Linked DNA regions of Homo sapiens: all the other regions are linked to region 2. The links come from fine-mapping of genetic effects on gene expression. A gene starts in region 2. Each other region holds a variant in brackets. All regions are shown on one strand. Distances are between the middles of the regions.

Region 1 (4,120 bases), 52 kb after region 2:
AATTTTTGTATTTTTAGTAGAGACAGGGTTTCACCATGTTGGCCAGGCTGGTCTCGAACTCCTGGCCTCAAGTGATCCTCCTGCCTTGGCCTCCCAAAATGCTGGAATTACAGGCATGAACCACGGCACCTAGCTGAGGACAAAGCTTTTGGTGCTTTTCAGTTTTCAATTGGCTTTCGAAGTCCATTGAGGACACAGGAGTGGTTTTTCACCTGTAGGGCTAGATGCTGGATAGCTGTGATTTCACTGCATTCTCACTACCTTTTTATCACTTCTGTCATTCTGCTGGATCTCACTTCATAATATGCAGTGTGTTCTTTTCCTACCTCTCAGAGGCTGACAGATGATAATCCATATGGTCATAGTGTTTGTTGTATTATTTTTTTTAAATCTGCAAAGATTTTTCTAAGTACAGTAACTCAGAGGTTGCTACTCAGAGCCAAGAGCTCTCTGTAAAAAAAAAAATTAGGGAGTCCAGGCTCTGATTAGGAATGAGGGGTCAGATGTTCCTTTTTGTATCATCACCCTGTGGTCCCTTCCTCTTTAAAGAAGAGCGCATTGGTATTCCAGGCTCTTCGGTTGAATTCAGTTTCTGCTGTCTTCAGTCACATGACTCTGCCCCTCCCTGGGGAACACATGGGAAGGGATGTGGTAGACGGGGCTGGGAGGACCTCTAAGTGATTTCTGTTCCAAGATGGATGTGTTTCTTTGTGGTACACTTCATACTACCTTTCAACATTTCTTTCAGACAAAGGGCCAGTGACCAGCATTCTCCCGTCTCAGGTAAACAGTTCTCCAGTTATAAACCACCTTCTTTTAGGAAAGAAGATGAAAATGACTAACAGAGCTGCCAAGAATGCTGTCATCCACATCCCTGGTCACACAGGAGGGAAAATATCTCCTGTCCCCTACGAAGACCTTAAGACGAAGCTCAACTCCCCGTGGCGAACTCACATCCGAGTCCACAAAAAGAACATGCCAAGGACCAAGAGTCATCCGGGCTGTGGGGACACCGTAGGGCTGATAGATGAGCAGAACGAGGCCAGCAAGACCAATGGGCTGGGGGCAGCAGAGGCATTCCCCTCTGGTTGTACAGCGACAGCTGGGAGAGAAGGCAGCAGCCCTGAAGGCAGTACCAGGAGGACGATCGAGGGGCAGTCTCCGGAGCCGGTGTTCGGAGATGCTGATGTGGATGTGTCTGCAGTTCAGGCGAAGTTGGGAGCCCTGGAACTGAACCAGAGGGATGCTGCAGCTGAAACTGAGCTCAGGGTGCACCCACCCTGCCAGCGGCACTGCCCAGAGCCGCCGAGTGCACCCGAAGAAAACAAAGCCACCAGCAAAGCTCCCCAAGGCAGCAACTCAAAAACCCCCATCTTTAGCCCTTTTCCCAGCGTCAAGCCCCTGCGGAAATCTGCTACTGCCAGGAACTTGGGATTATATGGCCCTACAGAAAGAACCCCAACTGTGCACTTTCCTCAAATGAGTAGGAGCTTCAGCAAACCCGGCGGTGGAAACAGTGGCACTAAAAAACGATGATGTCTCCCCGAAACTTTGTATCTGGACTCACCTTTTCACAGTAGTATAAGGGTTGCAGCTGAATGGCTCTAAAAGAGTTTTATTTGTCCAGTGAAAATGAATAGGTTCAGGGATGAGCAACAGCCCATAAAAAATGGGAACTGGAAGTTTTATAATAGGAGTTAGAACAGGGCTGTTTTCCCAGCTACTTGCTAACTGACGAAGTGGATTCTTGTGGCAAAATAAATATTGTGGTTTTATAGTGTGAAGTTTTCCCAATTTTTCATTGTGAGCTGTTTAAAAAAGACTATATCTAGATTGTTAACTCTCGTCCATCCTTCTGTTCTGGGGGCCTTCAGAGTCCCTGTGACAGCACCCCCAAACCTTCCAGTTCTCTGGGTGTTACTAATACTCAAGCATGCACATACCAGCTTGCTAGGACAGAAACTGTAAAAAGAAAGTAAGTTTCTTCGTTACAAAAAACTTCCTGATTTTCCTTTTCATGCTTTACGGAGGGGATTGTGTCGTGTGAGATTTCCCACAGTACCAGTTTCAAATTTTTTTTTTATTCTTATGCTAAATCATAGGAGAAAAATCTAGATAGCCTTTCTTTAACTGTCTATTTCTACCTGCAAAATGAAGAAAACCTTTCATCTGTTGAAATTTCA[A/G]TCGATAACCCAGCTGAAGATCTTATGCACAGGACACACTTGGCATATGCTTTACGCAGTTGCTCCGGACAGCTTGCTCGCGCCACTGAGCTTTTCCTGAGGTTTGTGTTCGCCTCTCAAGGAGAGCTTTGATCCTCAGTGGTACGGATGACTTGATGGGCTCCATGCGGAGCCTGGCCTGCATCCCCCACCACACAGCTCACTCACCCACCAGCTCTAGACTGCAGACGCACAAGGCCTCTGCTCAGAAGCCAGAACACAGCACCTGTGACTCTGTTACTTGAATTTTGTGCTTTTTGATTGGAGTCCTTTGTTGAGTACTTTGTTAATTGAACACTGCCTTTCTCTGGAGAAGGCCCCAGTGCTTTCTAGCTCCCTCTCACTCCTGCCCTTTCTAGCTCTCTCTCACCCAGCGGGTCAGGGATAGCACCTCTTGTCTCCACTATGCAGATGGGAACTCTGAGCCACACAGAGGTGAAGTAGCACTTCAGTTACTCAAGGTCAGTACTCTCGGTATTCCAAGTGACTTAGCCACATTTCCTTCAGTGCAATAGGTGGGTTTAATGCTCTTTGTACACAGATGTATTGGCTACATAGCGTGTAAAAACCAAGACTGGGAAGCCATTCACTAAAATCCCTCCTGACTCAAAGGACCTGTCTCCAGATGGTACAGAGTCCCTTGATGGCATTTTACAAAACCAGCTCTGACTTCCTTATCCTGAACAGGGAGTTTATTTTAAAAATGCTTCATGCACCTGTTATTTGGCTGAACAGAAGGCTCACTCCTCAATCCCCTTCTCCTCGCCATCATTAGAGGAATAGACTCAGCCTTCATGTTTGTCTCTGGAAGACGATTGGCGATACTTGCAGGAATATTGTTGATGCAGCCAATATTAATTTGAGCTAATGGATTGTTAATTCTGAAACGAAAACTGTAACTGTAGAGCAGGCTTTTACTATGAGAGGTACTACTTTTTATAATAGAGAATGTGGTTGTGTGGGCTTTTTTTGAACAGAAAACACAACAATGACCTATACCGTGAGAAAAGCCATTTTATCTTCTTCGTGGTATTTTTACCCCCAAAGGAACTGAAGATGGAAAATATGACTAATAAGTTATTGCAGTTTTGGTCTTGAATTCTGTGCCATCTGAAGTTAGCATCCAGCTTCTTAAAAAGCAGCCACGCCTACAGCCTGTTTTTTGGGAAGGCTGTAGGTGGAGAGATGGGCTTATTTTGCATACCACCCTCAGGGCCCAGAGACCCACTGCATTTTCCAAAGTTAAGCAAATGACACCATTTTCTTCCATCAGCTAAACTTTACAGATAATAGTGTTTCCACCTCATATCCTTTTCTTTGCCCCTTCTCAAATGAGTCAGAATAGTCATGTTCCCCTTGAGGGATGTCTGACTTGAATGGAGAATTGTTCTTTCCTCTCTTGAATCAGCTCACTAGCTCCCTGATGGTCTGGGTTCAAGGAAATGGTTAATGAGGTAGAGGCCACTTATACAAGTCCTTGGGATTGTACCATTGCTGTCCACAAACTTAGTATCAACAACACATGCTGTGCCCTGTGAACACTCTCCTCTCACCTATTTCCAGGGTTGGTCTTCCTGAGAAGGGGATGGATGAGGTAACACACAGTTTGGGATACGTATCTGTTGAATGAATGAATAAGTGAAAGGATAATAGTCCTCTGAGGTAAAAATGGCCTTGTCAGAATTTTGAAAATCCAACAGATTCCTATTAAAGCACTCTGTGTACCAATAACATGCATGCATTGTACCAAGTAATCACAATGTGAATTGGTCAATTTATGAGCCTTGCCTACTTTAGAAAATAAAGAAACCTGCAGTAGCCTCTACCACACAGCATGTACAAAGACCAGTATGGACTTGCTATCTTCCCTATGTATTGGACACTGTATGCAAACACCA
Region 2 (4,120 bases):
ACTGGGATTACAGACCTGAGCCACAGCACCTGACCCAGCAATTAATTGCTTTTTGTTTTTGTTTTTACTTCTGAGGCAGGGTCTCACCATCACCCAGGCTGGAGTACAGTGGTGCGATAATGGCTCATTGCAGCCTTGACCTCCCTGGCCTCAGGTGATCCTCCCACCTCAGCCTCCTGAGTAGCTGGGCCTACAGGTGTGTGCCATCATGCCCAGCTAATTTTTGTAGCTTTTTTTTTTTTTTTGTAGAGATGGGGGTTTGCCATGTTGTCCAGGCTCAGCCATTGTTTTTCAAGTTCAAATTGTTTCATCTTTGGCCAATAGGAAGGAGCCTATTTATGTGACTCTTGTGTCTTTTTGACTTGACCCCATTAATTGTGAAACATTTCCTTTCTTTTTGAGCTCATCAAAATGTTTCAGGGTCATCTTGTACTTTTTCTGTCCCAAACCTGGAATCAGTCACTCCTCAAAGGAGCCTTAGTTCCTTTGAGTGGGGAATGGTTTTTAGAGACCATAACCTGGGTGCTGTGGGTGTTCATTGCTGCTGAGTTGTCCTTACTTCTAAACCTATTCAATGAATGTATGTATTTTTTTGAAAAGAAAAAAAAATGAGTTCATACTAGTGTTTCCCATATAAATATATAATTGTAATATTTTAAAGAAAACTTAATTACTTTGGTTATACACATATTTTCTATTACACTGAAAACATCTTGGCTCCATTTGATGTTAGCATACTTATTTATTTGCTTTATCCTGTAGTGGATATAAGAATTTAAGAAATATGAATATTATTAATAACAATAATACTACTGAATGAAATGTAAGGTTTCTTTGCAGTTTTATTTGCTCTGGGAATATGTACAACTGTTGATGTACAGTCATAATATTGTGTTCTATGTCAACTTAAGAGAGAATTATTTTTTTCTGTGTTCTTATGCTATAAGTGGGATAGTCCATTAGGTTGATTTGTTTCCATTAATTTTCAATTGTTAGGGTTTTCTTTTACAATTTAAAAATAATTTATTCATTTATAGTCAGGGACTAGGTCTGTTGCTCAGGCTAGAATGCAGGGGTGCAATCATAGCTCACTGCAGCTTTGAACTCCTAGTTTCAAGACATCCTCCTGCCTTGACTTCCCAAAGTGCTAGGAATACAGGTGTGAGCCACCGTGCCCAGACTATTTTATGTATTTTCAAATTTTATTTTTATTTTTATGTCTTTTTAAGAGATGGGGTCTCGCTATGTTGCCCAAGCTGGCCTCAAACTCTTGGGGCTAAGCAATTTTCCCACCTCAGCCTGCCAAGTAGCTGGGACTATAGGCATGCTGTTCCATCATCCTGGTTTTTTAAAAATTTAATTTGTTAATATTATTAATATAGTGTTATTCCAGAGCCAAAACTACAGGAGGCACATCAAGAGAGGACTCAGTTTTCCATTCTTGTCTCCTCCACGATGTTCCTTCTCCTATACAAGTTTTCTAATTTGTTTTTGGTTTATCCATTTAGTGTTTCTTTTTATAAATATTAGCAAACACAAGTATCTTTATATCCCCCCCCCACACCCTTTCTTTCATCCATTTTAATGGTAAATAGTCTATTGGTGAATATTGCCGTTTGAGAATGACTTTTTTTTTTTTAAACCATAATGATGGGCAATAGTTCAGAACTACTGAAGTCTGGCTGGAGAGATGAGGAACATTACTTTTTAATACTGCTTGAAAAGAGAACACTTTTTTTCTGGAAGCCCATTTTTCTAAAAGAAACAATAATTTTTTTTTCCTTCATTTTCTCCGCGCCTCTCTAATCTGCCAGGAAATAATTCAACGCAATTCGGGCTGAAGCGTGTGCCTCGCCGCCTGCGGTTGGGTCATGGCCCCTTCTGAGACTGCTCGGAAGTGGGAGAGGATGCTTGCCCTTACGGGTGTTCTGCCCCTGAGACTGGCGCCCCTTGGTGCTCCCTCTGTTCCCTCCCAGATCTTGGGAGAAGCACGGACATCTCTGTTTCTGCTTTTGGTCCCCGAACGCAGTTACGCGCCCACTGGCTCCCTGTCTCTGGCGCTTCTGGGCACGGGGGAGCTGGGGCGGCCCCGCCTGCGCACGGCGGTGCCGGGATTGGGGGCGGGCACGCCGCCTCCGTCTCCCACGCGCTCGCTCGCTCGCTCGCTCCCGCCCTCCCCGCCTCGAGCGATCTCCTGCCTCAGCCTTGCAGGCTCCGCACTGCAGATGCCTGCTGGCTTCCCTGCGCTCGGCGGCTCCCGCGGTGCCCCGTAAGTCCCCGTGACCCTCCAGCACCAGCCGGCTGTGCGCTCCCTGCTCCCACGGGCCGGTCAGCCGCAGACACTCACCCAGCTCCGCGAGCTCAGCCGCTCAGCGAGTGGGGTAGCGGGGACCGAGACGGACGGTAGCCGTGCCAGAGCCCGGGGCGCTCTCGGATGCGGCAGGACAAGCTGACCGGGTCTCTGAGGCGCGGGGGGAGATGCCTGAAGCGGCAGGGCGGCGGCGTGGGCACCATCCTGAGCAATGTGCTCAAGAAGCGCAGCTGCATTTCCCGGACCGCGCCCCGGCTGCTGTGCACCCTGGAGCCGGGTGAGGACCCCAGGGCTGCAGATGGGGCGCTGTAAAGTAGCGCCGGGGCTGCCCGCGCTTCTGCCTTAGCCTGACTCCGTCTAGGCCGGGGAGCTCTGGGGAAAGTCCGCGTGCCACCTGGTGCGGGGCACCGCGTTGGCACCTGCAGGGAGCGATTGGTCTGGAAGGGTAGAGGGCAGACGGGGGCCTGGGTGGGGCAGCGGCCACCCCAGGCGCGGAGAACCCGCTGCTTCCACCCTCTCCCCGCGGACCCCCACCCTGCGGCCTGTGTGCTCGGCTTTCTCCGCGTGGCGGGGAAGTGCGGGTGGCTGCCCGGGCCCTCAGAGGCCGCACCACCTATTGTGTTCCAGGCTCGCAGGAAGCCAGACCTTGCGAGAGGTGTGTGGGGGCGGAGAGTGGCACAGGTTTGACACTGCAGGTCGGAGGAGGAAGACAGTGGCTGCAAAGGCAAAATCGGGTGTTATTTTCCCAAGAGTCCCTTCAGCGTGAGTGCCGGGGTCAGCTCGAACTGGAGCCTGTAATTTGTGAGTGCGAGTGGGGAGCAGCAGGAGATCCTTTTCATAGGTGAGGTCCAGGAACGAGCCTGGTCGTGCTAGGCAAGGCCCTTCCCACTGTCAGCCTGTGTTTACCCATCCCTGCTTCTCCAGACTGCATAACTCCGTGTCGGCTCCATCACCCGGCATCCCTCCCCGGGATTTTAAGAGCCTGGCCCTAGCGCGGGCTCCTGGGCACGGAGGTTTCTGGCAAGGAGTGGCTGCAGAGGGAGTTGGCTGTACTCTCACTGGTGCTTGGCGCTCACCTGTTCCCTGGAGTGGCACCGGCTGCGTTCCAGGCGGGTTCACGGTCCCCGGCCCCCGCCCCCCAGCGCCAGCGCCTTGGGGACCTGCTGTAGAGCCGCAGGAGAATCGAGCTGCAGAGTCCCAAAGGGTGGGATGCGGCACTGCCTTTCCCAACCTCGTGGTTTCTTTGTTGTTCTCCCCTAGGAAGTGTCTAGTTGCAGAGGCTGTAGTATTTATTCACCATCTTCCTTTACCTCTTTTTTTTTTCTTTTAAATCTCCTTCCCACGTTAAAAGTAAGTGTTTTGTATTTCTGAATCCGGAATAGCTGTGATTATCAGATGAAACATAAACCTTCTCTCTGCCCGTATTCTGTTAGAAGAAAAGAAAAGTGGGGTGAAAGTGACCTGGTTTAAGCTTTTGCATGCAGGCGGCGAATCAATTTCAGTTAAATCCTCTTGCTCATTTTTGATCATGAGAGGATAGTTGTGGTTTTGGCCAACTAACCCCTGCTGGGTTTCACTATGAGAAGGCAATCGGCATGATGCCCAGCAGGTGCCCCGGAAAAGTCAGAAGAGCATATTGGTCAGACATACAGGGAATCCTTGTAGTGTGGCAAGAATAAGTCAGCGCGGGACCGAATTTCCTGGTCTTTGTTATCAAGCAAACGTCATGATTATACGCTCCTCCATTCAGCACCTCGCGTCCGGACAGCAACCTCACTTGTTTTCAGCGTGCCTTAAAGCGTGCGCTGG
Region 3 (4,120 bases), 39 kb before region 2:
GGGATCACTGGAAATGAGATAATGTAAGAACCCTTTTGTGGAGGAAAAGTATAATTTAAATGTTTTGTGATTATATTCCTACCCCTTTTATTTCTAGAAGGAAAATGTTGATTTGGTTCTTTGGTTTCACCATGTTGGTCAGGCTGGTCTCAAACTCCTGACCTCAGGTGATCTGCCTGCCTCGGCCCCCTGAAGTGCTGGGATTACAGGTGTGAGCCACCGTGCCCAGCCCAAAATATTGAAATATTCAGAGAAAGATGTTTGTTCTATCTGAAGGCATCTAGGAATGAAGAGCCTCTGGTTGCCTCTTGTAGGCTTTTTCTCATATTTAATCATATTTTCATTTAACTTAAATGTTCTCTTTTCATTATATCCTACTATGTTTAAAATTAGGGGGACAGGAAGAACTAGCCTTTGCCCTCTTCTTCATGGTAATTCCTTATTTTTACTTAAAGCGTTATTTATGTTAGTGTTTATAAAGACCATACCCATTTGTTTCTCAGCATAATCCTGTATGCTAGGCATAATTTGAGACTTGGAGCACACTTCCTTGCCTAAAAATCACTCAGAGAGTTGGCTGATCCAAAAGCAGTCCTTTTTAACTCAGGGCCAAATGCATTTTCCATGGTGAGGTCAGGTTTGAGAACCCTGCATTTGTTTGTTACAGACCCCAAAAGTTGACTTTGATCTCTAGAGTGCATTTCTACTTTTGAGCATTTATTTTCTTCTCTTCTGATTCTCTTTAGTTTCTCCATATCCCTTTAAAAATGAGTAGATCCAAACCCCACAGAGAACCTCTAATGGGGGGCTAGCTAAGGTTAAGTTGAGTGGAAGGCTTTGCCTGCCTACTAGATCATGCTCTAGTGACTAATCATATCAAATGTGACCAAAAAAAACCTCCTCCCAAATCGTAATGATCATTTATATAAAGACAGTAGACAATTCTGGTTCCCAAATTTGTTTTGACCTATAGAAAAACTGCTGTTAAGGGGAGGGAGAGCATTAGAACAAATACCTAATGCATGTGGGGCTTAAAACCTAGGTGATGGGTTGATGGGTGCAGCAAACCACCATGGCACATGTATACCTGTAACAAACCTGCATACTCTGCACATGTATCCTGGAACTTAAAGTAAAATAAAGTAAAAAAAAAAAAACTGCTGTTGTGAATATTAGTTTTATGAATGTAGAATTATTGTAATTTATCTGTGTAAAGGAAATTTATTTTCTACCATATTTGAAAAATTGCTGAGGCTCTAAGATGAAATATTGTACCTCTAAGACAAAATGTTTTTAGGCTATTGGAAGACTGGATATTCAAAACAAAATCAGTATTGCCACATTCATCTACATTACAAAATGTGGTAAAATTATTTACTTTTAGCTCATCATTTGTAAACATAGATGAGTACTTTAAAGACTTTTTTTTTTTTTTTTTCTTTGAGACGGAGTTTCGCTCTTGTTGCCCAGGCTGGAGTGCAATGGCGCGATCTTGGCTCACTGCAGCCTCCTCCTCTCGGGTTCAAGCAATTCTGCCTCAGCTTCTGGAGTAGCTGGGATT[A/G]CAGGCATGTGCCACCACTCCCAGTTAATTTTGTATTTTTAGTAGAGATGGGGTTTCTCCATGTTGGTCAGGCTGGTCTCCAACTCCTGACCTCAGGTAATCTGCCCTCCTTGGCCTCCCAAAGTGCTGGGATTACAGGTGTGAGCCACCACGCCTGGCCTTTAAAGACTTTTTTTTTTTTTTAATTAGCTGTTAGGTTTATTATTAATGTAACAGACTAAAAAAGATTCTTTTCTAGCAAGCTTACCATCTGAACACTTCAGTGGTACAAAATATACATGCCAGTTTTCAGGCAATGAAAAGTAAATTTGCAGCCAGAGCTAGATATGGTAAAAGTAGGAGTTTTTGCTCCATGTTACAGATAGGCTTAAGGATAAATTTACCTTACAGTATCTGTCTCATGGACAGGGCAGATAAATGAGTGACTTATTTGATCGGAATGTCCGAGCTGAATGCATACATGTAATCTTGAGTGAAAACCTAGAATTAGTTGGTTTAAATGGATGTTCTATTTATCTTTGGACTAATATCACACTGGAATTTGTATTCCTCTCAAGGTATTAATCGTTATTCTTATTTTTCTTTACTGATAGACGCTAATGAACTGAAGACGATCCTTCGAGAGCTAAAGTACAGAATTGGCATCCAGTCGGCCAAGTTACTTCGGCATCTGAAGCAGAAAGATAGGCTTCTGCATAAAGTGCAGAGGAACTGTGATATTGTGACTGCCTGCTTGCAGGCTGTGTCACAGAAGAGAAGTAAGTACTGGAATTGGGTTACTTCTTTTGCCACATGCAACTAGAATGTTAGGAAAGCTGAGCCAACAGTCTGTGTTTGTGAATATATTGAGAAGTTTTAAATGCAAGCTTATACCCTCAGAACTAAGAACAAGGAACAACTCAGACAGTTTCCTATTTTTCAGTTAAAATGTATACTTCATGTCTAATGTTACAACCTTAGATTTATTATTCTAGATTTGAAGTAGTACTTTACTTTGACAATAATTTTACCTAATGCTGAATGATGATTACAATTTTATTTTATTTATTTATTTATTTATTTGAAACAGAGTCTCACTCCGTCACCCAGGCTGGAGTGCAGTGGCGTAATCTTGGCTGAATACAACCTCCGCCTCCCAGGTTCAGGCAATTCTCCTGTCTAAGCCTCCTGAGTAGCTGGAACTACAGGCGCCCGCCACCAGGCCTGGCTAATTTTTGTATTTTTAGTAGAGACGAGGTTTCACCTTGCTGGTCAGGCTGGTCAGGCTGATCTCAAACTCCTGATCTCAGGTGATTCACCCTTCTTGGCCTCCCAAAGTGCTGGGATTACAGGCGTGAGCCCCTGCGCCTGGACAAATTTTTATTTTTAAAACAGCATCACTGGCTGGGTGTGGTGGCTCACACCTATAATCCCAGCACTTTTGGAGGCCGAGGCTGGTGGATCACCTGAGGTCAGGTGTTTGAGACCAGCCTGGCCAACATGGTGAAACCCCATCTCTACTAAAAATTAGCTGGTCGTGGTGGCTGGCACCTGTAGTCCCAGCTACTCAGGAGGTTGAGGCAGGAGAATCACTTGAACCTGGGAGGCAGAGGTTGCAGTGAACCGAGATCGCACCATTGCACTCCAGCCTGGGCGACAAGAGCGAAACTCCATCTCAAAAAAAAAATAAATAAATAAAAATAAAAATAAATAAATAAAACAGCATCACACAGACATAACCTAAAAGGCATGTCCTTTTTCTCTTATTCTGTGTTGCTACAGTAAGTGAATTAAATAATTGATTTAAAGAAATCGATTCTTGTAACAGGACCTTAACAACTTGCTCTGAAATCTGAAGATGGCAACATAGTTTAGCAAATGTAACCTATCTCTTGCATAATCATAACTAAGAGCTGTGTGGGAGCTGTGTGGTTTGTTAATCAATTAAAAATAAATTGTTAAATTGCTGATACACATTAAATACTAGGTATAAAACCTTGTGAATTAATTTTAAAATTCTCCATGCAATAGCCTTATGTTTTATTCTGCTAACATTTAACTATTTTTGTTTTGCATTCTTTATTAACATGCAGCATGGCAGAACAGTATGCTCAGGTATGGTAAATATAGGTACAATGATGTTTTTGATAAAATGCCTGTGACAGCTTTTCAGGCGATTGTGGAAGTTGCCTTTTGTTGCTCTTTCACTCTGTCACATTTTGTACGTAAATTGACACCTCCTAGAGTGCTTTTTTTTCAAAATTGCAAATTAAGATGTGTTTGCTTTCATGAAACAATTTTTGGGGTTTGATTAGTTTCTGGTAATGAAATTAATCGCTTAAATTTCATTCTTATGTTTATTATTAAAAGAAAATCCTGTATTTTCTTGCTTCTCTTCTATTATATTGCTGTTTGTTATCCCTAAAGTATTATTTATGCTGTTTATTAAAGAAGGTTTTACCTAATAGATATTAACAGATTGCTGCAGGCCGGGCATGGCGGCTCACGCCTATAATCCCAGCACTTTGGGAGGCCAAGGTGGGCAGATCACCTGAGGTTAGGAGTTCGAGATCAGCCTCG
Region 4 (4,120 bases), 59 kb before region 2:
TGTCACCAGGCTAGAGTGCAGTGGCATGATCTCGGCTCACTACAACCTCCACCTCTCAGGTTCAAGCGATTCTCCTGCCTCAGCCTCCCAAGTAGCTGGGATTACAGGTGTACACCACCACATCCAGCTAATTTTTGTATTTTTAGTAGAGACAGTGTTTCACCATATTGGTCTGGTCTCGAACTCCTGACCTCAGGCTGGTCTTGAACTCCTGACCTCAGGTGATCCACCCACCTTGGCCTCCCAAGGTGCTGGGATTACAGGCGTGAGCCACCATGCCCAGCCTAGCCAAGCTGTTTTTTAAAGAGCATGCAGCCCTTTTTCCTAATCATTATAATAGCTGTGTTAACAGATGACTGATTATAAATGCTGTTTAACCACAGGTTAAAATAACAATCTTGTTTTACTTTGTTGAATAATGTCTCAGATGTTTTCAGTTGGCTAAAAATATTTAAAAATTGCTCATAGGTTTTCCTGTTAGAAAGTAGTGCCCAATAATTGCCAACTCATCAGTGGTTGTCATATCCAGAATAGAATACATAATAGTATTTGGTGTTTGGTTATGTGTTTGACTTACCACTTTTTAAACATTTTTTTCATTATTTCAATTTTTTCCATAAATTGTTTTAGTAAAATAAGTTGTGTTTTCATTTTGACATGTTTTTCCAAGAGCTTAAGCAAAAATGCATCCAATTCAGCTATTAGTTGAAAAATTCCTGTGGAATTTTCATTATAGGAACAATAGTACTTTTCATCATGACCTCTGAAGTGTAACTTTCACTTAACGTTTAATAACCTCAAAACTTCCATCTCTGGCCACGATGGAGTAACAGTGCCAGACTAATTCTCTTGCTAAAAACAACTAGAAAACAGGGCAATATAGATGCCTTTATACAAGTGACAATAGTGAAGGACTGTGATCCACATGTAAAGAGAAACAAACAATTGCTCCAACTTTTTGCCTGGTGGAGGGACATTCTGAACCAGAGAGCAGGAAATAGGATCTCATGCTTGACAAAGTTGACTTGCTAACTTTGGGTGGACAGAGATCAAAGTTGAGGGAGATTGAGGCAGCTGGAAGTTTGCAGGGAAGAATTCCAAAGAGAAGGGTGCTGTATAGATTTAAAAGCTCCATAAGTTTGTACAGATGTCTTTCTGAAACTTTGCTGAACACTGAGATGTGCATTCACAGGGTGAAACACCACCAGAAGGCAAGGCAAAGAATGACCAAGGTAATGTAAAACAAATAATTCTCAGAGGGGTTGGGATGTTTGAGATCCAGCCAGCCATAGGGGAAAGTCCTCCTTGATCATCAGGAGCACTCCTTAGGAACCTGGAAAGGTCGTGCCCTAATAGTGGAGCTAAACTATCATGAGTAAAAAGTACTGTGCACCCACAGAAACAAAGCTTGGGTACAGCCCTCAAAAGATCAAACTAATCTGCAAGGAAAGTAACTTGCTTTCCAGAATAAGGCTCAACACTCTTTCAGGGAAGACTACGAAACCTAGATATTCAACAATATGAAATTCACAATGTCCTGCGTTGAATAAGAAAATTACTACACAGGGCCGGGCATCGTGGCTCACGCCTGTAATCCCAGCACTTTGGGAGGCCGAGGCGGATCATGAGGTCAGGAGATCAAGACCATCCTGGCTAACACAGTGAAACCCCATCTCTACTAAAAAATACAAAAAATTAGCTGGGCATGGTGGCGGGTGCCTGTAGTCCCAGCTACTCAGGAGGATTAGGCAGGAGAATGGCGTGAACCCGGGAGGTGGAGGTTGAAGTGAGCCGAGATTGCGCCACTACACTCCAGTAGCCTGGGCGACAGAGCAAGACTGTCTCCAAAAAAAAAAAAAAAAAAAAAAAAAAAAAATTACTATATAGGCTCCCAAACAGGAAAATGTGACCCCATGACCAGAAGAAAAAATTGTCAATAGAAACAGATAATAAATGACAGGGATGAAGAAGTTAATAGATTAATGTGTTAAAACTCCTATTATAACTTGTTCAAGTATTTAAAGGAAAACATGAGCCAACTGAGAAGAGAGGTGGAAGATATATAACTGGGCCAGGCACAGTGGCACACACTTGTAATCCCAGCACTTTGGGAGGCCTAGGTGGGCAGATGGCTTGAGCCCAGGAGTTTGAGACCAGCCTGGGCGACTTGACAAAACCCCACCTCTACAAAAAAAAAAAAAAAATACAATACACAAAATTAGCTGGGCTTGGTGGTATGCTCCTGTAGTCCCAGCTACTCAGGAGGCTGAGATGGGAGGATCACTTGAGCCGGGGAGGTCCAGGCTGCAGTGAGCCATGATTGTGCCACTGCATTCCAGCCTGGGTGACAGAGGGATACCCTGTCTCA[AAAAT/A]AAATAAATACAAATAGAATCTATAACTGAATAGCACTATATCTGAAAATTCACTACATGGATTAAGAGATGATTAAACAATATGGGGGGGAGATAAGTCAACTTGAAGGTATAGCAAGAGAAAAATACCCAAAATAAAGCAAAGAGAGAAAAAAACGAAAATAAAAATGAGCAGGGCCCTTGTGACCTGTGAAACAAAATCATGGGGTCTACTATTTACATAACTGGAATTCCAGAAGGAAGAAATAATTTTTCGAAGAAATAATAGTTGCTGTCTGCATATAGAGAAAACTCTGATCTCAGATTCAAGAAATTCAGTGAACCCCATGCAGAAAAAACATAAAGAAAATCATACTGAGAAACATCACAATCAAAATTCTGGAAACTAGTAATAAAGAAAAGTAGACTTTATGACAAAAATATTATTAGAGATAAAAACAGGGCATTTTATAATGATAAAAGGTTCAATCCATCAGGAAGATATAACAATTATAAATATATATGGACCTAACAAAGTACCAAAATTCTTGAAGTAAAAACTGATAGAAATAAAGGAAAAAATGGACAACTCGATAATAGTTGGAAACTTCAATACTCCACTTTCAATAATGGATAGAGTAGCTAGGCAGAAGATGAACAAGGACATAGAAGACTTGAATAACATTATAAAATAGGTAGACCTAACAGAGATCTACAGAACTCTCCACCCAACAAGAGCAGAATCTATACTCTTCTCAAGTGCCTGTGGAATATTCTCCAGGATAGACCATGTACTAGGCCATAAAACAAACCTCGATAAATCTAAAAGGGTAGAAATAATACAAGTATGTTCTCTCACCACAGTGAAATAAAATTAGAACATAAGATTCCCAGAGAAATTTGGGTAGCTCACAAATATTTGGAAATGAAACAACATACTCCTAAATAATCAGTGGATTAAAACAGAAATCAAAAGGGAAATTAGAAAATACTTTGAGATGAATGAATATGAATACACAGCATACTAAAACTTGGGATACAACTAACATAGAGCTTGAAGAGTAATTTGTGGCTGTAAATGCCTATATTTAAAAAAAGAATGATCTCATATCATTAATTTAACCTTCTACCTTAAGACACCAAAGAAAGCAAAATAAACCTAAAGCAAGCAGAAGGAAGGAAATAATAAAAATTAGAGCAGAAATTAATGAAACGAGGATAGAAAAAAATAGAGAAAAATCAATGAAAGCAAAAGCTGATTCTTTGGAAAGATTAACAAAATTGTCAAATCTTGGTGGTCCCTATCAGAGATATCCCATATCTCCATTTAAGTAGCCAGTCTGGCCCCTGCAGAAAGGATCATGGGAAATGATCATAGCCTACCACAAGCTCAACCAAGTATTAGTCCTGACGCTGTGGCCATGCTGGATTTGATACCTTTGCTAGACAAAATCAATATGACTACAGGTAAATTTTAAGCAGCCACCGATTTGGTGAATGCATTCTCTTCTGTCCCTATCAGAAAAGAGGCTCAGAAACACTTCACATTCATACAGAATGAACAACAAAAGACATCTACAGTTTTGCCCCAAGGTTATGTTAACTCATCTCTGTGTCACAATATGTAACTATGTGACTATGTGTTATAATACAGCCCTGACAAATCCAGACTGCCCAGGTATCCTGCAGAACATCTTACCCATCCAATACATTGATGACATCATGCTGATCAGGCAGGATGAAAAAGAGGTGACTAGCATCTGGACACC
Region 5 (4,120 bases), 130 kb before region 2:
GCCCAGGCTGGTGTGCAGTGGCACAATCTCGGCTCACTGCAACCTCCGCCTCCTGGGTTCCAGTGATTCTCCTGCCTCAGCCTCCCAAGTAGCTACAATTACAAGTGCCCACCACCATGCCCAGCTAACTTTTGTATTTTTAGTAGAGACAGAGTTTCACCATGTTGGTGGCCAGGCTGGTCTCAAACTCCTGACCCCAGGCAATCTGCCTGTCTCGGCCTCCCAAAGTGCTGGGATTACAGGTATGAGCCACCACGCCTGGCCTTGGTTTTTGAGACAGCGTCTTACTCTGTCACCTAGGCTGGAGTACCATGGCATGATCATAGCTCATTGTAACCTTGAACTCCTGGGCTCAAGTGATGCTCTTGCCTCAGCCTCCTAAGTAGCTAGGACTATAGGCGGGCCCCATTATGCCTGGCTAGTTAGAAAAAAAAATTTTTTTTTTTTGGAGACCAGGGTCCTGCTATGTTGCCCTGGCTGGTCTCGAACTCCAGGCCTCAAGTGATCCTCCTGCCTCAGCCTTTAAGTGTTGGGATTACAGGTGCGAGCCACTATGCCTGGCCTATTTTTATTGTTTTTAAAGGAGTAGTGGACCCTTTTTTAGGTTTCTTATCTTGCCTTTTTTTTTTCATTTAAAAAAAATTTTATTTATTTTTTGAGACAGAGTTTCACTCTTGTTGCCCAGGCAGGAGCGCAATGGCACGATCTCGGCTCACTCCAACCTCCACCTCCCAGGTTTGAGTGATTCTCCTGCCTCGGCCTCCCAAGTAGCTGGGATTACAGGTGCCCGCCACCACGCCCGGCTGATTTTTTGTATTTTTAGTAGAGACAGGGTTTTGCCATGTTGGCCAGGCTGGTCTCAAACTGCTGGCCTCAGGTGACCCGCCCACCTCGGCCTCCCAAAGTATTGGGATTACAGGCATGAGCCACCATGCCTGGCTCTTACCTTGTTTTCTAAAAGGAAGAGCAGAGCTAACTATAAGCATATTTTGGGACTAATATCTATTAAAATTTATTCTTGAAAATAATTTCCTTCTTAATCAAGGCACAGTTTATATTTGAACAGAAACAGAATAGATTTTATTCCACTGTGGGCTACTGGTATTAAATAATAAGATGAGCCGACTGGCGACTTAGAGGCTGGGGTAACTTGGATGGTTACCTTGATCTGGAGGAGGGGATCACAATGGGGAAGTGGTCTCAGGAATGGCTGAATACTCTGTAACATGCTGCTTGTTTCTTTACCCAGTCTACGCCTGCAAGCTCTCAGACCGGGAACATCCACTCTACCTGCGTTTGGTAGCAGGGCCCAGAACAGACACACTTAGTTTTGTTCTTCGTGAACATGAAATTGGAGAGGTAAGTTATTGTTCACTATTGCTTTAAACTATACAGAACAGCTGGCCCTATTTTATTGCAGTAGCCTAGTGACTTGGCTATTGATGGGGGATGGGAAGAGAAGAGAGTTGGAGGGCAGGGGGATGGGAAGAGAAGAGAGTTGGAGGGCAGGGAGAGGGAGAGGGATTTTGAATTGTCAGAAATGAACCCAAAGTTAGCCTATGATGTCATTCTCTCACAACCTTATATTATTAGTCTGTCATTTTCAGAGGTGGGAGAAAATAAAGTTTTTTTACTTGATCTCCATCCAGAGAGTCATTTTCACCCCTTCCCACCTCCAAAATACTCCAGTCCAGCTGAACTTTGAAAGTTGACACTCACCATGTGTTTGCTACTAACAAAAGTCTCCAGGCTAATTCCCTTCTAAAGGGATATAAAAGGAAATTCGATCTCTTTACCATGGAAGGCATTTAGCTTTCTAGCATCTTTTTTTTCCCCCTTGCCCAGTCAACTGATTAAGAAATTATGTTTCCATGTGCATCATTTGCCATGTTGTCTCCAGGGAGGATTGTATTTAGCCAGTTCAGTAGAAGAAAAAAAGCACTTGAGCCTGCCCTCTAGATCAAGTGTCAGCTTTAAATGACACTTGAGCAAATCCCAAGCTCCTGTCCCAGTCTTCTGTCTGGAACAGGAAATGGTGTGAAATGTCCTACATGGTGCAATTGAGAATAGGGTTTCTAGGTTAAAAGTTAGGAAACGGCTCTGTTTCCTACTGTTTGTTAGATTAGTAGCATGACCTTGGATAAGTCTTCTAATCTTTT[A/G]GCCCTCAGTTTTAAAATCTGTTAAGTGGGACTAAACACTTTACAAGGTGGGCTTTGAGTCACAATTAGAAATGTATACATGTAAGTGAAGGGAGTTTTAGGAAGACAGTGGTTTTACATGTTTTTGAAGTTTCTTTTGATTCTGGTGTTTTGAAGCTTTTCAAGACATTCAGACTCATTTTGGGGAGAAGGCAGGGTGCAGAAATCTGACTTGGCTTTGCAGATGGTGACCATTCCCTCTGCCAGCTTAAGCCAGACACATTAGCATAGTCTACTCAGTGTTTTATTTTTCTTGTACTTAGTGTTTTAAGTAGCAACTAGAACTACATTGGGCAAGAATTTTATTAACTTGGTTATTTTATTGTATTTTAATTATAATTAGAGATAGGGTCTCACTACGTTGCCCAAGCTGGTCTCAAACTCCTGGGCTCAAGCAATCCTCCCACCTCAGCCTCCCAAAGTGCTGGGATTACAGGCATGAGCCACTGCACCTGGCCTTAACTTAGTTTTGAAATTGACTTGACATTGGGTTTTATTGTTCCAGACTGCTGTACTGGACCTCTGTATGGTGTTCTTATTTCTCAGTTATTTAAGGAAAACTGAACTGAGGAAGAAATTTCCATAGCTGTTAGGGGGTGGGAGGGATATTTATATGATGTCTTTATTTTGGAGACTTCAACATAGGTGAAAGATAATCTGTTAAAATTTTAAAAATTAACAGAATATTCTAACGTAGAAGTTTTGCTCTCCTACTCCATGTTGCTCTTTTTTTTTTTTTTTTTTTTAAATAACCAGCCTAAACTGTTCTCCAGGAATTCTTCTACCACTGAGCCCATTTGGTGGATTTACTTATTTTTCACTCTTTGTTTGTATTTGGTTATCTTGAATCTTTTCTCTACACCATCAGACAGCAGTTCTCCACCAGGATCCAGGGCCCCCTTTGGGAGAGGAGGATGTGTTTGGAAAAAACCTCGTAGATGATGCTAGATACCCTCCTTGACATTCACTGCTTCTATTTTTTAAAATCTGTTTTAATTTTTTTTTTTTTCTTTTTAAAGAGACTAGGTCTTGCACTGTCACCCAGGCTGGAGTACAGTGGCGCAATCATGGCTCACTGCAGCCTCAATCTCCCGGGCTCAAGCAATCCTCCTACCTCAGCCTCCCAAGTAACTGGGACTACAGGAATGTACTGCCACAGCCAGATAATTTTTAAATTTTTTGTAGCGACCTGGTGTCACTATTTTGCCCAGGCTGGTCTCGAACTTCTGGTCTTGAACTTCTGGGCTCAAATGATCCTCCTGCCTAAGCATTCCAAAGTGCTAGGATTATAGGCATGAGCCACAATGCCCAGCCTAAAAACTTATTTTGTGCCTGCTAAATAAGTACTAGGAGCTGTTAGGGAAACAAGGCTCAGAGCCTCAAGGCAAGAGATAAACTCCAAATAGCGAGAAGTACGGCAGCTGTGGTGTAGGTAAGGTGCAGGTGAGATAGATATTAAGCAAATAATTGTAATTTAAAAATCTTGGTTGTGATCAGGGGCTCTGTGAAGGCTTTTGATACACTTAGCCTTGGGTGGGAAGAGAGGAGAGGAAGTTGTGGAAAGCTGCTTAGAGAAAGTGGCATTTAAGCTGAGATGGGGAGGATGAGTAGTTCATAGCCAGGCAAAGTGGAGGAGGGGAGAATGCGTGCCACTTGGGCAGAGAGTGAAGCTCGGTGAGAGAGAGATGGGGCCGGAGAGTTTAGAGTCTTTCAGACAGCATCAGCAACTAAGGGAAGCCATTGGATGGTTCTAAGCAGGGGAGAGTCTTGGCCAGATGAGCATTTTACAAAGGATGTTCTGTTTGGGGAACAGATGGGGGAGCATAAGAGCCGAGTGAGGAGGCCAGGTAGGAAGCTGTTCCAGCGATGCAGGAATAGATGATAGTAGCTAGCACCAAGGGGCCGTACCGAGGGAGAAAAGG

Evidence for each region. PIP is the estimated chance that this variant, and not a neighbour inherited with it, causes the effect. A credible set is the group of variants that fine-mapping cannot tell apart.
Region 1: its variant is the best candidate, but not a certain one, in a credible set for the expression of TBC1D30 in spleen (GTEx, PIP 0.56).
Region 3: its variant is the best candidate, but not a certain one, in a credible set for the expression of TBC1D30 in lung (TOPMed, PIP 0.62).
Region 4: its variant is the best candidate, but not a certain one, in a credible set for the expression of TBC1D30 in whole blood (TOPMed, PIP 0.59).
Region 5: its variant is the best candidate, but not a certain one, in a credible set for the expression of TBC1D30 in whole blood (TOPMed, PIP 0.85).

What each region holds. Positions count from the first base shown.
Region 1 is chr12:64,874,253-64,878,372 of GRCh38, forward strand. It overlaps TBC1D30 (TBC1 domain family member 30), which reads left to right. Exons shown (of 12, transcript NM_015279.2): 12 at 749-4,120. The coding sequence ends at 1,536. Among named protein-coding and RNA genes, the nearest start is that of LINC02389, 7.5 kb to the right of the region's middle. The variant A/G (reference allele first, on the strand shown) is at 2,184.
Region 2 is chr12:64,822,446-64,826,565 of GRCh38, forward strand. It overlaps TBC1D30 (TBC1 domain family member 30), which reads left to right and starts at 2,202. Exons shown (of 12, transcript NM_015279.2): 1 at 2,202-2,588. The coding sequence starts at 2,435. RefSeq lists a silencer at 2,022-2,261 and an enhancer at 2,900-3,407.
Region 3 is chr12:64,783,727-64,787,846 of GRCh38, forward strand. It overlaps a transcript of TBC1D30 not described here. Among named protein-coding and RNA genes, the nearest start is that of GNS, 26 kb to the left of the region's middle. The variant A/G (reference allele first, on the strand shown) is at 1,562.
Region 4 is chr12:64,763,645-64,767,764 of GRCh38, forward strand. It overlaps a transcript of TBC1D30 not described here. Among named protein-coding and RNA genes, the nearest start is that of GNS, 6.3 kb to the left of the region's middle. The variant AAAAT/A (reference allele first, on the strand shown) is at 2,369.
Region 5 is chr12:64,690,221-64,694,340 of GRCh38, forward strand. RASSF3 (Ras association domain family member 3) reads left to right here. Exons shown (of 5, transcript NM_178169.4): 4 at 1,250-1,359. Among named protein-coding and RNA genes, the nearest start is that of GNS, 67 kb to the right of the region's middle. RefSeq lists a silencer at 3,969-4,120. The variant A/G (reference allele first, on the strand shown) is at 2,160.